Linked DNA regions of Homo sapiens: region 2 is linked to region 1. The links come from fine-mapping of genetic effects on gene expression. A gene starts in region 1. The other region holds a variant in brackets. All regions are shown on one strand. Distances are from middle to middle. Region 1 holds the start of FAS (Fas cell surface death receptor). Region 2 overlaps STAMBPL1 (STAM binding protein like 1).

Region 1 (8,000 bases):
TTTCCTCTCAGTGTGGTTTCCTCTCAGCATGAGTTGACTGTTTTCAGCTCTGGCAGGGCCACAAGCTCCCTTCACAACCAACCACATCAGTTTCACATCTCACATATTTCTACTTCAAATCCAATGAAAAAGAAAGGGTTTGTGTCCCAGTGTTTCCAGTAAAGATCCCAAAATCTACTCCAACTGAATGTGATGTGCTGATTGGCTTAAGCCAAGTCACATTTCCCACCCACTACCTCCCTCCACCTACACATATACCCAAGCCCTGGGATTGGTACCAATGCCACTGTGATGGTTAATTTTATGTATCAAATTAGCTAGGCCATGGCACTTGGCTATTTAGTCAAACACTATCTTAGATGTTTCTGTAAAGCAATGTTTTGGATGGGATTAACATTTAAATCTTTACACTTTGAGTAAAACATTTGCTTTCTATAATGTCAATAGGCCTTATCCAGTTAGTTGAAGGCCTTAAAAAAGAAAAAAAAAAAGACTGACTTCCACTGAGTGAGTGAGAATTATGCCAGCAGACGGCCTTTGGACTTGAACTATAACTTTTTCATGGGTCTCCAGCCTGTTGGCCAATGCTAAAGTTTTGGACTTGCCAGCCTCTACAATCACGTGAGCCAACTCCTATCTATCTTTCCATTTATTCATTCTCTTGGTTCTATTTCTCTAGAGAACCCTGACTAAAAGAACCACTCACATCAAATAGTTAAGAAGAGGGGAGAGGGACAGTTTTTCTAAAGACAACTTGGAAGTACTATTACCAGAAGGAAGAAGAAGGAGAAAGGCAGGATAAACAGTCATGGATATACACTATAGCTGGGAGTTATTAAAATCAACTTATTGCAATTTAGTAAAAACAATTTGGTTGACAACATTTTTTAAACATTAGGACCAAAGGGGAAAAGAACAAAAGTCTTAGTGGTAAAAAGATGTAGAAGTTTTTTTTTTTTTTTGTTTTGTTTTTTATCTTAACTCTTCCTGTTTTTTTACATAGTCAAGATTCTTGTTTAAGTGTTATTCAGAATGTTCAGAAACCAGGATATCTTTTGAGTAGAAGCTTTAACTTATATGGTATGGTTTGAATAAGGATGGTTGTCCAAAATATCTCCAACATCTGTTGGAGTGCCTGAAATTCTATTATTAAAATTTTATTTCTTTGCCCTTGAAGGCCTGAGGACTCTCAGGAATATGCTGGTAAAATAAAAATAACCTTTAGAGATGCCCAAACTGTTTTCCCCAGAACACCAGCATTCATTAGGTGTTCATTCAATAGATTCTTCAAAGGATTCCAAAGGCAAAGAAGTTTGGGGAACAGTATATATAATTACCCAACCCTTTGACATTAGCATACTAAGGGCCCTGAGAAGTTTTGGATTCAGAAAGTTTTCAAATTAAAGTAACCCAGAATTTTCTAAGATTATTTGACCATGAAACATATGTCTCCCCACAAAGCACATATTCCTATCTCCTTGAACTTGAGGATAATTAGACGTACGTGGGCAGAGGGTAGGGGAAGGGGGTATGGCATAGAAAGAGCAGGACCTTGGGAGCAAGAATATCTAAGTTTAATTCCTGACTCTGCTATTTATTAACTAACCATCTTTGCCAATGTTGCTTAAGCTTTTTTGGCTACATTTTTTTATTTGTAAAGTAAGTTTAATAATCACTCATCTCACTGGGCTATAATGATAAGTATTAAGTAAGGAAGATCCACATATGTGAGTTGCTGGCTTATAATTCACACTCAAGAGATACTGATTTTGTCAATTGTCCTTTCCCCTTTTTTTCTCTCTTCCCTCCTTCCATTCCTTCTTCCCTTACCTCTCCTTTCCTTCCCTCACACCCCTTTTCCTTCCTTCTTTTTACATTTTTTTATTTAAATGAACTTTTCATTTTGGAATAGTTTTAGGATTTCAAAAAATTTGCAGAGATAATACAGAGAATGCCCATATACCATCCTCCTTATCCCACTTCTTTTTGTGTCTATTAGATGCTCAGAGTGTGTGCACAAGGCTGGCACGCCCAGGGTCTTCCTCATGGCACTAACAGTCTACTGAAAGGTGGAACAGAGACAAGCCTATCAACACCTACAAGACTGGTGGTAAGTGCAGTGACAGATGCAAAACACAGGGTGATGGAAAGCCCTCAGGAGGGTAACCTAACCTAGATTTGAGGGCCCAAACAGGCTCCAGAAGAAAATGTCAACTGAGAGGAAGCCTGAAGGATGAACAGTGGGCTAAGCAAAGGGTTATTAATGTGTTATTAATGGGTTGAATCTAATTGGGAAGGGAGAGAGGTTGCAGAGTGAGGTGCAGAGCTTGGTGGACGATGCCAAAGGAATACTGAAACCTTTAGTGTGTCCAGTCTGGAACTGCATCCAAATTCAGGTTCAGTAATGATGTCATTATCCAAACATACCTTCTGTAAAATTCATGCTAAACTACCTAAGAGCTATCTACCGTTCCAAAGCAATAGTGACTTTGAACAGTGTTCACCAGAGCACGAAAGAATTACAAGATTTTTTTTTAAAGAAAATTGGCCAGGAAATAATGAGTAACGAAGGACAGGAAGTAATTGTGAATGTTTAATATAGCTGGGGCTATGCGATTTGGCTTAAGTTGTTAGCTTTGTTTTCCTCTTGAGAAATAAAAACTAAGGGGCCCTCCCTTTTCAGAGCCCTATGGCGCAACATCTGTACTTTTTCATATGGTTAACTGTCCATTCCAGAAACGTCTGTGAGCCTCTCATGTTGCAGCCACAACATGGACAGCCCAGTCAAATGCCCCGCAAGTCTTTCTCTGAGTGACTCCAGCAATTAGCCAAGGCTCCTGTACCCAGGCAGGACCTCTGCGCTCTGAGCTCCATTCTCCTTCAAGACCTCCCCAACTTCCCAGGTTGAACTACAGCAGAAGCCTTTAGAAAGGGCAGGAGGCCGGCTCTCGAGGTCCTCACCTGAAGTGAGCATGCCAGCCACTGCAGGAACGCCCCGGGACAGGAATGCCCATTTGTGCAACGAACCCTGACTCCTTCCTCACCCTGACTTCTCCCCCTCCCTACCCGCGCGCAGGCCAAGTTGCTGAATCAATGGAGCCCTCCCCAACCCGGGCGTTCCCCAGCGAGGCTTCCTTCCCATCCTCCTGACCACCGGGGCTTTTCGTGAGCTCGTCTCTGATCTCGCGCAAGAGTGACACACAGGTGTTCAAAGACGCTTCTGGGGAGTGAGGGAAGCGGTTTACGAGTGACTTGGCTGGAGCCTCAGGGGCGGGCACTGGCACGGAACACACCCTGAGGCCAGCCCTGGCTGCCCAGGCGGAGCTGCCTCTTCTCCCGCGGGTTGGTGGACCCGCTCAGTACGGAGTTGGGGAAGCTCTTTCACTTCGGAGGATTGCTCAACAACCATGCTGGGCATCTGGACCCTCCTACCTCTGGTGAGCCCTCTCCTGCCCGGGTGGAGGCTTACCCCGTCTTAGTCCCGGGGATAGGCAAAGTGGGGCGGGCGCGGGACGCGTGCGGGATTGCGGCGGCAGCGGCGCACGCGGGCACCTGGGAGCGGCGGGCTGCTGCGGGAGGCGTTGGAGACTGGCTCCCGGGGGCTGTTAGGACCTTCCCTCAGGCCCGGGTGCTCAGAACGCTGGAGGACTTGCTTTTCTTGGGCCTTGATGCGAAGTGCTGACCCCGCTGGGCAGGCGGGGCAGCTCCGGCGCTCCTCGGAGACCACTGCGCTCCACGTTGAGGTGGGCGTGGGGTGCGGACAGGAATTGAAGCGGAAGTCTGGGAAGCTTTAGGGTCGCTGGAGGGGGACCCCGGTTGGAGAGAGGAGCGGAACTCCTGGACAAGCCCTGACAAGCCAAGCCAAAGGTCCGCTCCGGCGCGGGTGGGTGAGTGCGCGCCGCCCCGCGGGGGCGGGGAGAGAGCCTGCAGCCTTCAGAACAGATATTGCTCATTTTCTGGCAGTTCTCAGACGTAGGAAATAAGTCAGCACCGAAGCAGTGGTTAAGCCGGAGGGCTCGGAAGAACGGCACCTTTTCTTTCTCGAAAAAGTTATATGGGGGCTGAATGAGCTTCTGGAGGCTTGTTTACCGTTTTTTATTGTCACACAGAAAAAGAAACTGCCTTGTCTCCCTTCCGGGAATTCTCTCTTTAAGACTGTAAGTCGCTGCCTGAGTGGTTTCATTTTGTTTTGTTTTTCTGCCCTTCTCTTTCTTCTTTTGCCCTTTCTTAGCTTGCACTCCCATGGTGATTTCTGCTTGGTCTCCTGCTGGGGTTGGTGGTACTCGTTCCCACCGCACAGAACCCGGCGCCTATTATTGGCCAAGAAACTTGAGCAGCCTGTTTTGAAAAGTCCCTCGCTCAGAAATGCCAGCTTGCAGATGGCTAATCAAAGAGACGTGGATCCAGGAGGCTCATTTGAGTACCGGAGCCTCTGAGAGTCCATGGATTTTTATTTTATTGGGCCCCAACAAAGTGCCAGGCATAGCGAGAGAAGTGTTTACAAATGTGATCTCCGCGGATTCTCACGAGAGCCATGTAGTGGGGAAGATAACCACATCCCCATTTTACAGATGGCGAAATGAGGTTCAGAGAGCTTCAGTAATTCAGCCAAGATCACACAGCTAGTAAATGGGAGATATGGGATTGAACTCAGATCTAATTCCAAAACTCAGGCTGTTCGCTGATTGCATCTGATATCCAGATTACACCAAGAGGCTGAGATGTCTGGGTCCATTTTATGATTAGAAAAAAAAATCCTGTTCCTTTCAGAAATAGTGTGCACTATTTGGGATTCTTTAGAAACTTCCTTGGAGAAAATTAATGATTCAAGATTGAGAAAACATTTATACAACCTCAGGCCACACTCTTCTCTCTCTTGTTATTAACCATTGCACCACTGCAATGTTGGCTGCTTTGAAAATCTCATAGTTTTTGGACAGCAGTATTAGTAAAGTGTAAGAAAATTGTCAAAGCTTGGAGCTATGCTTGTTGAACTTTTGTACCAATAGCACCTTTACCAGAGGCTGCGTGTTTAAAGCCCGAAGAAAACTTTGCTTTTCTGAAAGAATACACACACACACGCATATGTAAATATTCATACATTTATGTATATATACATATTATAATACCTATAAGTTAGGTATAACTTATATTTGTATATGATATATGGCCTAGGAAATTAAGGCTTATTAAATAAAATTTATAAATGCAGATGAGTCAAATACAAAGATCAGACATAACTCTATCACCTAAGTAATCATTGTTTACGTTTTGCAGTTTATCTTCCATTTCTCCCCTCTAATATGACTCTTTTAAATTTAGTTACACAGAAATTGGTTTTGCGCTCACGACATGCCTAACATCAGGCCTTTATCCTTAAAGAAGTTTCAACACTCTTGTGTCACCTCATGTGTCTACAGAAAATGTTTGCTTTTATGCCTTCACGGTTATGTTTTCTTAGTAGTAGCAATAAATAAAATAGATGCAAAGTGCTAATTACTTGGAATACAGAAGCAAATTTTAATTCTATTAATGGGCTGGACATAGATGGGTGGGGAGCTGTTTTCTGCTTTTCCCCTCTTCCCCTAGTCCTCTGACTCTGGTGATAACTATAGTCAACAAGTATCCCCATCCTTAACCCCTTTTGCTTCTCTTTCTCTTTCCTTCTCTCAACCTTCCTGGTGTTAGTTTTCTCTTTCCTATTTCTGAGTGTTTTTACTCCGACACTTACAATAAAAAAGTTTGAAATCCCAAAAAGTTGACAAATTTCTAAAGGAGACAGAAAAAGAGTCAAACTTACTTTACAAATTAATTTGAGAAATAGCTGTGGGTTGCATTTTTTTTTTTTATTGTGCATGACCCTGTTATTGGCCAAGAAACTTGAGCAGCCTGTTTTGGAAAGTCCCTCGCTCAGAAATGCCAGCTTGCTAATTGAAGGGATGTGGATCCATGAGGCTCATTTGAATTCCGAAGCCTCTAAGAGTCCATGGATTTTTATTTTATTGGGCCCCAACAGGTTTTGTCTTGCATTATTTAGGACATTGGCCAGGCAATCACTGGACAGCCAGTTTGCTCTCCTTTACATTTTGTAGAATGGTTATCTTATGGTCAAAGGAAAGGGAGAGGGCCTTTGGAAAATAAAGCTGTGTATTTACAAGCAGTCATACAGAATAGTTTTGTGGGGAAAATAAAGAACAGTTATTTAATTTGTAATTTAATCATTTTTCTTAAACCAACCCAAAGAGCATAAAATGGAATATTTATTTATTTTTGTAGCTTAATTTGTAATTTAATAATTTTTCTTAAGCCAACCTAACGAACATATTGGGCTGTTTATTTTCATTTTTAATGGGCCATATTTACATCACAAAGGACTTGAGAAGTCTTACAAATACAATAAAATGATAAAATATGAATTAAGACATTAGCAACCAGGATGGAAAAACACAAATTTGTAAATGATGGCCAGGTTTGCAAGCAAAAATTAAATTGATAAATGGCAGCACCCCCACTACCAGCTATAGTTAGACTGATGAAAAATCCTCTAATGTTCATGCCTGAAATACAGTTACCACCCTTAGCAGCAAATTAGAGGCAAAGAAGTTCTGGAATTTGGACGTTGTCTCTGAGTAAGCTCTTTGAGACACTGGACAAGTAATTTCCTTCTGAATACTCTTATACTGACACATAGGAGAAGTGTCAGTGTTTCAAAGGAATCTCTTTGAAGGCTACTACATTGCTTTAGGGGTGCCAGATTACCAGAGTAAACTGCCAGTTTGAGAGAATAACTGTTTCTTAAGAGATGGTCTGAAACCTAAGTAAGGAAATCCCCCCACTTGAAAGCCCCTAGGAAGTTAATTGCTTTTGGCAAATTATCTTGGGCCCCAAAAGTCCCTTGATGAGCACATGTTTTGTAATAGGTACTAAAGACTATTTACTTATGATGAAAAATAAAATAACACAATTTAAAACTTGAAATTGATAAAAAGCAACTTGAAACCAAATTTAGGACAGTGAACCCATCCCTTTCTTATTTTTAAATAGGTAAATATAGAAAAAATGACCACATGATGTGAAACAAAAAGCAAATATTTAAAAACTACATTTATACTTTATCTCACCACACTAATGTAAAGAATTTTGATTTTACTTATAAATTCTTAGCCTTGTCTACACATATACATAATTGCATGTTTAATTTGAGCTATATATAGTCTGTTTTTTGTTCCTTTGCATGTTACACAAACCTTTTTCTATTTCTACATAATTTTTATCTCATATTTTTTATTGGATACATTATAGAGAGAGCATTTATTAAATGAGCTGGGATTACTATAATTTTTATTATTTATTTTTTAATTTATTACTTATTTTTATAATTTACTATTGAAAAAAAGCATTTCTTAAATGTACTGGGATACATATATATATATGACTTTTTCTTGTTACTAAAAAATTACTCATAGAACTTACATATTAAAATTTTAGGACTTGTGATGAAAAATAATAAAATAATTCAAAACGATAAAAAGCAACATAATTTTATATGTTGTACCTTGTACTTCCTTATAAGGTACAACACTACAATAGCCTTAGTGTGTAGTTTTCTTTTTGCTATGTATGTATATATATATTCATAAAAGTGGAAAAATAACATTTAATAAATCCTCTTTATTTTCTGGAAAATCCTTGCTTTAAAAAAAGTCTTTAGCTTTTTATATAGTTCTACTTCTAACACCAATTAAATATCTTCAATTCAGTCTCAAGCAGGAACAAATCTTCAGTCCACTTGCCTACCTTTACTGTCTTTGAAGTGACAGTGTGAGTAGTAAAGCCCAAATCAGAGAGAAATTGACTTTTGTAAGATTGGTAACTTCACCTTCCCCGGAAGGAAATGAGGTGGTTCTTCCCTTTGATCACAACTGCTTTCTTGATTTGAAATAAACTGTTGTACAGCCCAGTCACCCCATCTTTAGACATTTAGAAATGGCAATCATAGT
Region 2 (10,650 bases), 97 kb before region 1:
CAGATAATAAATATTATAGCTGTCAGTGGTGCAAACTTTTTTATTCTTTTACTTGTTGAAAAGATTTTTAAAAGTACTATTCAAGCATTTACAGAATATTTTATTTTAAAATAATTTTAGACTTTCAAAAGATTGTGGAAACAGTACACAAAGTTTTTATACAACCTTTACCCTGATTCCTCAAATATTAACACCTTGCAAAACCACAGTAGTCATCAAAATCAGTAAATTAACACTGACACAATACTATTGTCTAATCTACAGATCTTATTCAAATTTCACCGAAGTCCTTCTGGGCAAGGATCCTTTCTGGGATCATACATTGAATTCATTTGTTATGCCTCCTTAGTCTCTTTTAATCTGCAATAGTTCCTAAGTCTTTCTGTCTTTCATGATCTTGACACTTTTTAAGAGCATTGGCTGATTGTTTCCTAGAAAATCCCTTGATTTGGGTTTATTTGATGTTTCTTCATGAGTATGTAATCAAGAGAGTGACCTAGTCTGATGATGGTCAAAAATAACTTGCCTGAAAAAGAGATGCTTAAGCTAACACCAGAAAGATGGGTAGAAAGTGGAAGTATGAACTGAGGATGGGGTGCCTTTGCATTGACTTTGCATAGTGCATCTAAGCAACTGAAAGAAGCCAGTGGAGGAGGTGGTGTGAAAGAAGGCTCTAAGGAGGCAGTCTGGTCAGACCCAGCTTTGTGGGACTTATTAAGGTTATAGGATATTAACAGCAATAGAACATCATTCAAGGGCTTTAAGCAAAGGAATGGCAATATCTGAATCAGGTTTTTAAAAGATCACTACAGGTAGATTCTTCACCAGGTAGAATTAATCAAAGGGGAGCAAGATAGAAACAAATACAACAACTAGGAGGCAGTTCTAGCAATGCAGGCAGAGAAAAGGGTGGGGTGTACATTAAGGAGCCTCCCCGCAAAGACGGTGAAAACCTGCAGTTTTGAGAGATGTTTTGGAGGGTGAATCTGAATCTGCACATGCAGGTGATAGATTGGATGTGGGGTTAAGGGAAGGGGTAGGTGCAGGATTGCTAATATCAGCGTTTGCCAGATATTTGTGTAAGTGATTGGATGTTGGTACCATCCATGGAGATGAAAGAGACAATTCTTCACCTCTGATAGTGAAGTCAGAAGCATCACCATCTCCAATTCTTTTAGATGCCAACATTTACAATATATTTGCTTATTTATGCTTCTGTATCTCATTATAGCCACTTAGCTTCCAAGTTCTATGGTTTTTCCTCAGAATCTTTCCCAATAACTGTTTGTCCTTCTCCATTTCTTTCACTGCTCTTCAGTTTGGACAAGGGTTTCCTCATTCCAGTGTTGCATACTTGCTTCCTCTCTGGGCTACCAATTCCTCTATTCTCTGTAACTTTATCCATCGCTTCCAGAGTATGTGTGTTTAATAAATATGTACTAAGTGCCTCGTTTGGGCAGATCACTTTGTTGGGAAGAGTTGGGAATTAAGTAAGTTAAGTATATTTCATGGAACTGGAGTCAATTCCGAGTTATAATTGAGGCAGAAGGAAAAAGGCCATTCTGCCTAGCGGTCAAGAAAGGACCATATTCTTCTTTCACTCCTTACAAAAAATAAATTCCACACAGGTCAAATGTATTTATCCAAAAATGACTAACCACAGAAGTACCAGAAGAAAAGATCAGTAGACATATTTTAAAATTGTTTATGATGAGTAAGTTTGAAGACCTTTTAAAGAATGTTGAGAAACCTAGATACCATAAAGAAAATAGGTCCACTTGAAAGCTTAAATTTTAAAAATTCCATGTAAAAATTAAACAGCTTTCAAGCAAGAATGTCAGCTGAACTAATAATTATAGAAGGAAAAATAGAAATAGAAAAATGGCCACTTTCAAACACCACAATAATTGTCTCAGGGAAAAAAATCTTCAAATGCTAAAATTAGTGGGCAATGGTATATTTGCATAGTTTCCCTACAAGATACTTTTCAATTATAAAGAGAAAAATAGTATCGTGGAGAAACCTGACCGATATAACTTAAACAAATATCACGATTAACATCATTAATAATTGAACAAATCAATAACATATGTCTCCTGATACATCATGGAGGATACACCATCACTTATAAGGTATTTTTTTGCCAAAAAAATGCATAACTCTCATTGTTTTCTGTATTTCATCTTTCTCACAGTCACCACAATCTTTATTAGATAATTGTGTAGATAATTGTTTATTATTTTTACACCTCTCTGCCCCATTCCTGGTCCTTAGCAGAATGTAAGGTCCATAAAAGCACAAAGTAGGGGCTTTATAAGTAACATTGAATAAATGAATGAATAAATAAATTTATTTGGAGCTATCAGTTTTTACAGGAAAGATCCATTTAGCCTTGGATTGTATTGAATGAAAAATAACAGTTGGGTATCCTGGTGGAAATGGATGGAGGACATTTGAAGGTACAATGCTAAAGCTCAAATTAAGCTGAAGCCATGAAAAAAAAAGGTGTCTTATAGAATAAAGATATATCAAGAAAAAAAGATGAAATATTAATATTTGAGATGCAGGGTGAGGGAGGAGAAAGGAAACACCTCCACTTCAGAGAGGCCAAGGCAGGAGTTGATTTTAAATAGGGAAAGTTCAGCTGATCAGGGCCAGGTGCTTAGTGGGGGTTTGTAACTGTTTAATGCAGTGAGTCTCAAGTTTTAATGTGCATAAAAACATCCTGGGCTGGAGATCCCTGGGGCACCCTTCCCAGAAATTTTGACTCAGTGGGGCCTAGAAATCTGTGGGGTTTGTGTATGTGTCTGTGTGTGTGCGTGTGCGTGTGTGTGTGTGTGTGTGTGTGTGGCCAGCACACCCCTCCTCCACCAAGTCATTGTAATGCAGGCAAGTTATCCAGGAACCACTCCCAGAGGGAACATGGCATCCAAATCAGGGGGATGTCAGCTCTAGGGTAGGAAGGTAGGAAGGGGATGAATGGTGAGCAAATTTGGACAGCAGATGACCACTTGCTAACAACTTTGCCAGAATAAGGAGCTCTTCAAGAAAACTCTTTAAAATGGATTGCCAGGGAAAGTTAAGAAGGAAACTTTTTTCTGTTTCTGCCTACTGCATTGAAGAGATTGTCCAGTGCAAAACCAAATGTATGAATACAGCCTCTGCTGTGACATGTTAAACAGTTAAGATTCTTGTGGTTGGAGAACACTGGAGAAGCAGTGGATGACAAGTACTTCAGGATGGCCCTCTTTTGCTTTTGAATAATAGTGCTGGACTCAGTCCATTTTGTAGAACTACTGTCCTTAAGAAAGTTATGAAAATTAAATAAAATTGATTAATAATGCCCAAGGACTAACTACATTTCTGAGCTTTCAGGCAACTGGCAGGCAGGAAAATGATGCTATTTCAAACATTTATTTGTGACTCATTATACTTCATTGAACTAAGTATCTTTTGGATAGTATTTTCTTAAAAGCAAAATTCCAATAAAAAAGGAAGTATATTAAAAGGTACATTAAAGTTTAGTGCCTTATGGGTAGCTTATCTTTAGAAATGCATTATTTCCAGGAATGTTTAGTATTTTAACAGGAGGAGAGCAAATTAGCAAGTTCATATGAATTTGTGGTGAAAAAATATCTGTGTACAAATATGAATCTCTCTCCAGCACCTCAAATTCATTTGCCAAGTGTTTTATAATGCATATTAATTGAATCATCACATTTAGAAAAGAATCTAAAATTAGCACATTGATGAGCATATGAAATGCCTTTGATATAGCACAAAAATGTAGAATTTATATTAAAAACCAGCAAATATTTTGAATTGAACTGTGTCTAGATAGAATAATTATGGATTTGAATTTCTTAACTACATATACCATGTAGTCAGTCCACAAACACTGAATCATTCTGCCGATGAAAAAAGTGAAGGGAGCTGGGCACGGTGGCTCACACCTGTAATCCCAGTACTTTGGGAGGCCGAGGCGGGCGGATCACCTGAGGTCAGGAGTTCGAGACCAGCCTGGCCAACATAGTGAAACCCCGTCTCTACTAAAAATACAAAATTAGCCAGGCATGGTAGTGCATGCCTGTAATCCCAGCTACTTAGGAAGCTGAAAGAGGAGAATCGCTTGAACCTAGGAAGCGGAGGTTGCAGTGAGCTGAGATTGCACCATTGCACTCCAGCCTGGGCAACAAGAGTGAAATTTCCTCTCCAACAAAAAAATGTGAAGG[G/A]AATGAATGTCCTTTTATTTCTTTGGCAGGGAGGAGATAATGAATCAGATAGTTGTAATGCTGAACTGAAATCTTCATTTCCACAGTAAATTTTTTCATTCTTGTCCAAGGCCCAAGGATGTGACCTTCTCTTGGATTTTCCTGATTATTATGAGAGGCAAGTCGTTAGTGTTGCAGTGTGACTGTGAGTATAAGCCCTGAACTCCTGTGCACTTAGAGTCCCTGCTCTGTCATTTGCTTGAATTACTTATCTCTTCTAGGCTTTAGTTTTCTTATCTGTAAAATGGAAATCATGGTCGTAATCATTTGAGTGTTTCCTGGCACCAAGCATTGTGCTATATGTTTTACAAGCATTATCTCACTTTACCTTCTCAGTACCCCTATTCATTATCAACCTCCTTTGCAGTTTGGGAAGCTGCAGTTCTGCTGTTAGTGGTTCCTGGAGCCAGAATTTGAATTCAGATGTTCTAACCCTGGAGACTGCATGTCTAATCCCAAGGCTCAACTACCTCCTATTGGAGAAGGCTAACTGAGATCATGTGTGTTCATGCATCCAGTTAGCCAGGGAACGAAAGCATTCTGCTAATGGTACCTATTGTTTTATACAGGTTTTTTTTTTGGCTATCTTTTTCTATTGAAGGCGACATAGTACCTTGCCTGCCCAGAATTCAGCTCACTCTTACCTAGAAGGCAGTCTAGAAAAAACAAGATAAAAGGCATTTTGAGCAGCAAAATTAGAAATCATGTAGCACATTCACTGTAATCAGCAGGTGGTTCACTCACAGAAGATCTCTCCTGATGCACACCTAGTCTATACTTTCATTCTGTAAATAATCTCAAATAATTTTTATCAATGAGAGAAAATAGATTAAAGGAGGAAAAAGACCGAATTCAAGAAGTTTAGTAAATAAGTTGCCTTTTAAGTGATTTTTTTCTAAATGAATGACAGATTAAACGGAGCAAATTAGAAATGGAGGGAAGCATTGTTAATGTTGAATTATGAAGAAAGGGTTAATGTTTCTATTTTAAGTTAAGGAGTAAATAATATATCTTAGAACTGTTTCCTTCAAAAATATTTAAATCTCATAATATTTTATGATTATTATTTACTATTTTACTATTCAGAATCACCTCTTTTGTCACGGGATTCATATAGCTAAAGATTTTCTTATATTTCCAGAGGAATCCTATGCTAATTAGGGAGCATATTACAGAATCCTAAGAGTGCCTTTTGTAATGGCATTTTAAATCTTATATAATAACAATTTAGAAGAGAACGGTTTTAGGGTAAGATCAGCAGCTCAGCCATGTGAGCAAGGAGCCAGGCTCATTCCACCCTTGGGTTCTGCCATCCTCCAGACACTGGCTGTCCTTGGACTTGACCCTTCTAGGTTGCAAAATGGCTGCTGCCTTTTAAAACTTATGTGAAGTCACATGTTCAGCTGATGAAAAGGCATATATTCCCTAGGATGTCTCTTTGTATTAGAGATGAAAATTTCTCACAGAATCCTCCCAACAGATTTCCCCTCAGGTCTCATTGTCCAATATTTGGTTACTTGCCAACCAGCCAAGTCCTGACTACAAGGGAGACTGAGAAAGTGACTATCTCTAGTGGGACTGGGCCCTGCTGGTGAGGAAGAAGTAGTGGTGGCTAGGGGATAGATAACTGTCTGTCAAAAGCTCATTGCAAAGAAGCAAGTAGTTACACATCAACCGACCATCTGATATCTGTAATAGAAGTCAACTTTTAGCAGAGGTCATTAACCTCACCTCTCCAACATTTGCTGTGAGAAAGAACTGATTTTCTTTGAGTTTCTTCCTGCAAGCTGGGAACTATAATGGAACTTTATTACCTCATTTAAGCTTTAGTTGAATTCTTCTGGAAAGCTATTGTTGTGCCTATTTAATAGATGAAGATAAGGTGCACAAAAAGGTTAAATAAGCTGCTGTAGCACTCCCAACTAGTGATAGAAACTGGCCCCTCCTAAAGTAGTATATGGCCCCCAAACCTGAGCTCTTCGTGCTAAGGGCACCGAACCACTTCATCTTGGTGGCTGGATAAAAAGTTTGTATTACACTATGCAAAATAATTATTTTATGGCCCAGTATGTGACTTTCTTGCACTCACAGTAGCCTAGATCTACCTCAAGGTAATTTAACACATGCATCAGGAGTGGTTTGTTTAATCATCTTTCCTGTAACAACTACATTCTTGCTCATTGATCTAATATAAACCATTCTGTTGTGACTGGTATATTTAATGTGGAATATACCTCTAGAAGTAACAGACAAGCACCTGGCACCTAGTAAATGATAATATATAGTACTTACAAATATAGGGAAAAAATCCAATAAAAGCTATTTCTAATATTATGATCATTTCGTTTTTATCTTATCAATATTTTAGTAAAGATAATTTATCATCTATGTCACAGCATATTTCTGATTGCAGATATTATAGAAGATAAGTGTAAAAACAAATCAATGTAATCTTTGCTTTTGATGTCTGAATTTTTAAAATCCTTCAAAAGGGACATGAAGGGTGGGCCTAGATTTATTTATTTTTCCTGAAGTAGGGCCCAATCTGTAAGACTGTGACTCAGGAGATCCTTCTTTGTGTCTCTGTCATTTAAGACATGGGAATGACCCTTTACCTCTCTTTATCTAAATCAGATTAGGTCATTGCAGCCTACAGGCTGAGTTACAATAATTTTCTTTGTCTACCTCCAACTGAGTAAATTGCACCATGTTCTTCCTGGAAAACATGACCACTAACCCAGTGGCTGTTGGTTTGGCCAATTAGAAATGAGACTGCTGGAGGTGGTATAAGGTGCTCTGTCCTCTCTTAACTGCCAATGGGCCACACCTACTTATCCAGGTCACTAGGGCACTCAAGTCAAAAGAAGTGCCTGGGAGAAAATGGCACATTTGGGTGATGGTCTCGCTGGCTGTTTACTGTATGCTGAGTCTCTTAGGAGACCGTTCACTGCCTGGTAATCATCTGCTTTCTGAATTCTGGAAAATATTTCTCTGTGGATGAAAATGGGTCAGGATTCTGAACTTTGCCACACACACACAAACACACACATACATGCACGCACGCACACACACACACTATTTTAAGAAAAAGAAAGAAAGAAAAGAAAAGGAAATTAAGGCTGAAAAAATCACAAAATAAGCACCATGCTAGGTCAGATATTTTCCTCTGTTCATTCTTGCATTGTTTGCTGCTGATTTTAAAGGGCAGAATTGTTGAGACTCTTCCATGTTTCCATGGGGGACTTCAGACTTGGAAACATTGCAGGGACACAAAAGCCAAGAGGATTTTGCTATGGTTATGTAGAGAATAAACTGTTACAAGCTCAGAGCTGTGAAATACCAATTTGGAGAGGATACTTACCCCCTCCCAGGCCACTTATGGATGAGACAGCATTTTGGCCACATCCCCTCTGGGCACAGTCGACTGCTCAGTTGGTTCTGGGAGCTACTTGTTAGCTGAATCTCTGGGACAGGGGTTGGCCTCCATGTGCTCATTGTGAATATGTATGGTTCTGACACCATGATTCCCCACATTCTTGTGAGTCGGATTAACAGAAAGCAGACACTCCCCTACTCCTCTATAAAAGGTCAGATTAAAGAAAAAAAATGATGATGTCTTTGGAGGTTATGGTCAGGAAAAGGGGCTAGCAATAAAAGCAAGAAGGCAAGAGCTCTGAAGCAAGAACTCTGAAGAGATATCTTAGAGGTTAAACAGATCACAAGGCTGTAGTTCAGATGATCAGATGTTATCAAGCCACAAGAATGTGAGGTAGAGGTCAGGGAGTAGGCTGAGATTAAAGCGGGCGTTTCTGATGAATGTTTTCCATTAGTTTTAAGCCACTCTAAAAGCAGCGAAGTGTGGCTGTGACAAGCGCCCTGCCGAATGAGTAAAGTAAACCTTGGAGGGGGCTCAGTAAAGGATATTTAGCAAGCAAATGATAGAGCCTAGACTCAACACCCAGGCTTATCTCACTCCAAAGGCTGTTTGCACCGTGTGCTTTGTAGCACTTTGGACCTCCACTTTGGAGGGGGAATTTATTTTATTCTTGCATGATACTGAATACTTCCCATTAGTTAGCATCTGTGGATCTCAAGTACTATGAGGTGAAGTACCTCTTACTGTACCCTCAGTTCAAATTTTCTAATTGTTTTAGTAAGACCACAGTAGCACAAATGGCAAGTGGTACTTGCTGTTAATTTTTCCTGTTTTAGATTCTCCTGGCCCACTTTATTTCTGATTAGATTGAGGTAGCATAGTGAGTTTTTGTTTTGTTTATTCATTTGCATTGTTGATCTAGAGCCGTGGTTTTCAGACTTTATTGGTCTTGGAACCCCTTTACACTCTTAATTACTAAGGACACTAAAAAGCTTTGTTTATGTGAGTTATATCTATTTATATTTACTGTATTAAAAATCAAAACAGACATTTATAAGAGTATGCAAGTAAGCATTCCATTAACTCTTGTACCCTCTGGAAATCTCCACTATACAACTGTGAAAGATTGATATTTAAAAAGTCAAATAATGCTTTAGTAATATTATGAAAGTAATATTGACCTCACAGACTCCCTGACAGGATCGTGGGGAACCTGGACCACATTTTGAGAGCCACTGAACTAGAAAACATACCTGTTTATGTTGATCTTGCAATTGTTTATAATGCAACTGTAAGTGCCAGGACTAGGGGGCAAAAAGATAAAGGAATTAAGACAGGACCATCAGCTAATACATGGTTCAAAAAATAAGTTGACTGACCAGTCTGTGAACTTCTTTCATCTTAGATTTGAGGGGAGTTGGCTTCTATTTCTGAATTATTAATATATTCATATGTGGGAGTGAATAGTTTTTATCTATAGTAATTTAATAAACTCTGATGTTTAAGATATGTTTAAACATTTCATACATATAGAAGCTCATTACAGAGATGTTTGTTTCATTGTTTCTGCTCACACTTAGCATTGTTTTCTGGTCACCCAGCCCTGAATCCACCTTTCCTCTCTTGGCATATCCCACTGCCTCCTACAGGAGGATAAAGTGCTAGATATTTACATTTTCGGCCATCTTTTCAGCCAGGCTGCAGGCATGGGACCCAGACTTTGCCAGTCAGACATCTGCATCTCATGCTTTGAAATAGAAACTAGAGACATGCAGAAGTACATGGCGGCTGCACATCGTTCCCAGGGCAGCAGCTAGTTGCTGGAGTTGCTGGTGTTGGTAGTAGAAGCTGTAGAATCCCCTGTTCATCAAGTGATAGAGATAGCAGAGGTGTTTTCACCAGACCAATGCTGCTGTGTAGTCTGGGGCAGTGTTCTTGGATATGTAGCTTCCAAACCTGATTTCTCTGGCCTTCCTAGAAGTTTGTGTTTTTTTTCATTATCCTTCTGTGAATTCAAGAGTCAGACCTTTGCCTGCAATTAAGAATCCTGCTTAATTCATTCTGAAATGCAGTGTCTCTCAAAGTATTGTTTGGAAACCTCATGTATTGGAATGACTGGGCCATATCTGACAATACCTACTTGTGGGCTTAAAACCGATGGATTCAGAATCCTTAGGGTGGGTCTTAGGAGACTGCATTTTAAACAGATCTCAGGTTTATGTGATTTTAGATGCAGTAAAATGTAAAAACCGCTATCCTAATATTTTCAACCTTTTAAATTCTATGCTCTCTCTTTATGGATCTGAGCAATCATCAAAAGAAATAATTCTACTTTTTAAATATTTTATTTTTGAGCTGGAGTCTCGCTCTGTCACCCAGGCTAGAGTGTAGTGGTGCCATCTCAACTCACTGCATCCTCCGCCCCATGGATTCAAGCAATTCTCCTGCCTCAGCCTCCCTAGTAGCTGGGATTACAGGCGTGCACTACCACGCCTGGCTAATTTTTGTATTTTCAGTAGAGACGGAGTTTCACCACGTTGCCCAGACTGGTCTTGAACTCCTGACCTCAGGTGATCCGCCTGCCTCGGCCTCCCAAAGTGCTGGGATTACAGGCGTGAATCACTGTGTCTGGCCAATTCTACTCTTTTATAAGGCCCTAATAAATGACTTACTAGTGTTTTCTTGTTCCCCTCCCTCCCCGGCTTCACATTCCCCATAAGCCTTTGCTCTGTCTTTTTAACGCTTTTAACGTCTTTTTTTCCTGGTTTATTTCTTCTCACTGAGAAGTATTAATTCCTCAGTTGGGATTGCCTACATTCAGTGGTGCCAAAATTGTTAACTCAGCTTCTAAACTACACTGTGATGAACCATGTTTTTTCTTTCTTGGGCATTTTTTAGCCTGCAGGCTTAGAGCTCAATGTTTACCCCAGGGATTACTGGAGACAATGGAGGGGAAAGACTGGAATACAAGAGTAATTTTTCTTGAAGGGTTCCTCCACCATG

What was found.
Region 2: its variant is fine-mapped to the expression of FAS in whole blood (TOPMed, PIP 0.93).

The regions. Positions count from the first base shown.
Region 1 is chr10:88,987,470-88,995,469 of GRCh38, forward strand. It overlaps FAS (Fas cell surface death receptor), which reads left to right and starts at 3,329. Exons shown (of 9, transcript NM_000043.6): 1 at 3,329-3,437. The coding sequence starts at 3,408. It overlaps FAS-AS1 (FAS antisense RNA 1), which reads right to left and starts at 5,506. Exons shown (of 1, transcript NR_028371.1): 1 at 3,953-5,506. It also overlaps a transcript of ACTA2 not described here. RefSeq lists a silencer at 2,025-2,074 and enhancers at 2,482-2,993, 2,994-3,504, 3,645-4,054, 4,185-4,264.
Region 2 is chr10:88,889,529-88,900,178 of GRCh38, forward strand. All of the region lies in intron 1 of STAMBPL1 (STAM binding protein like 1), which reads left to right. Among named protein-coding and RNA genes, the nearest start is that of STAMBPL1, 15 kb to the left of the region's middle. RefSeq lists an enhancer at 9,311-9,400. The variant G/A (reference allele first, on the strand shown) is at 4,233.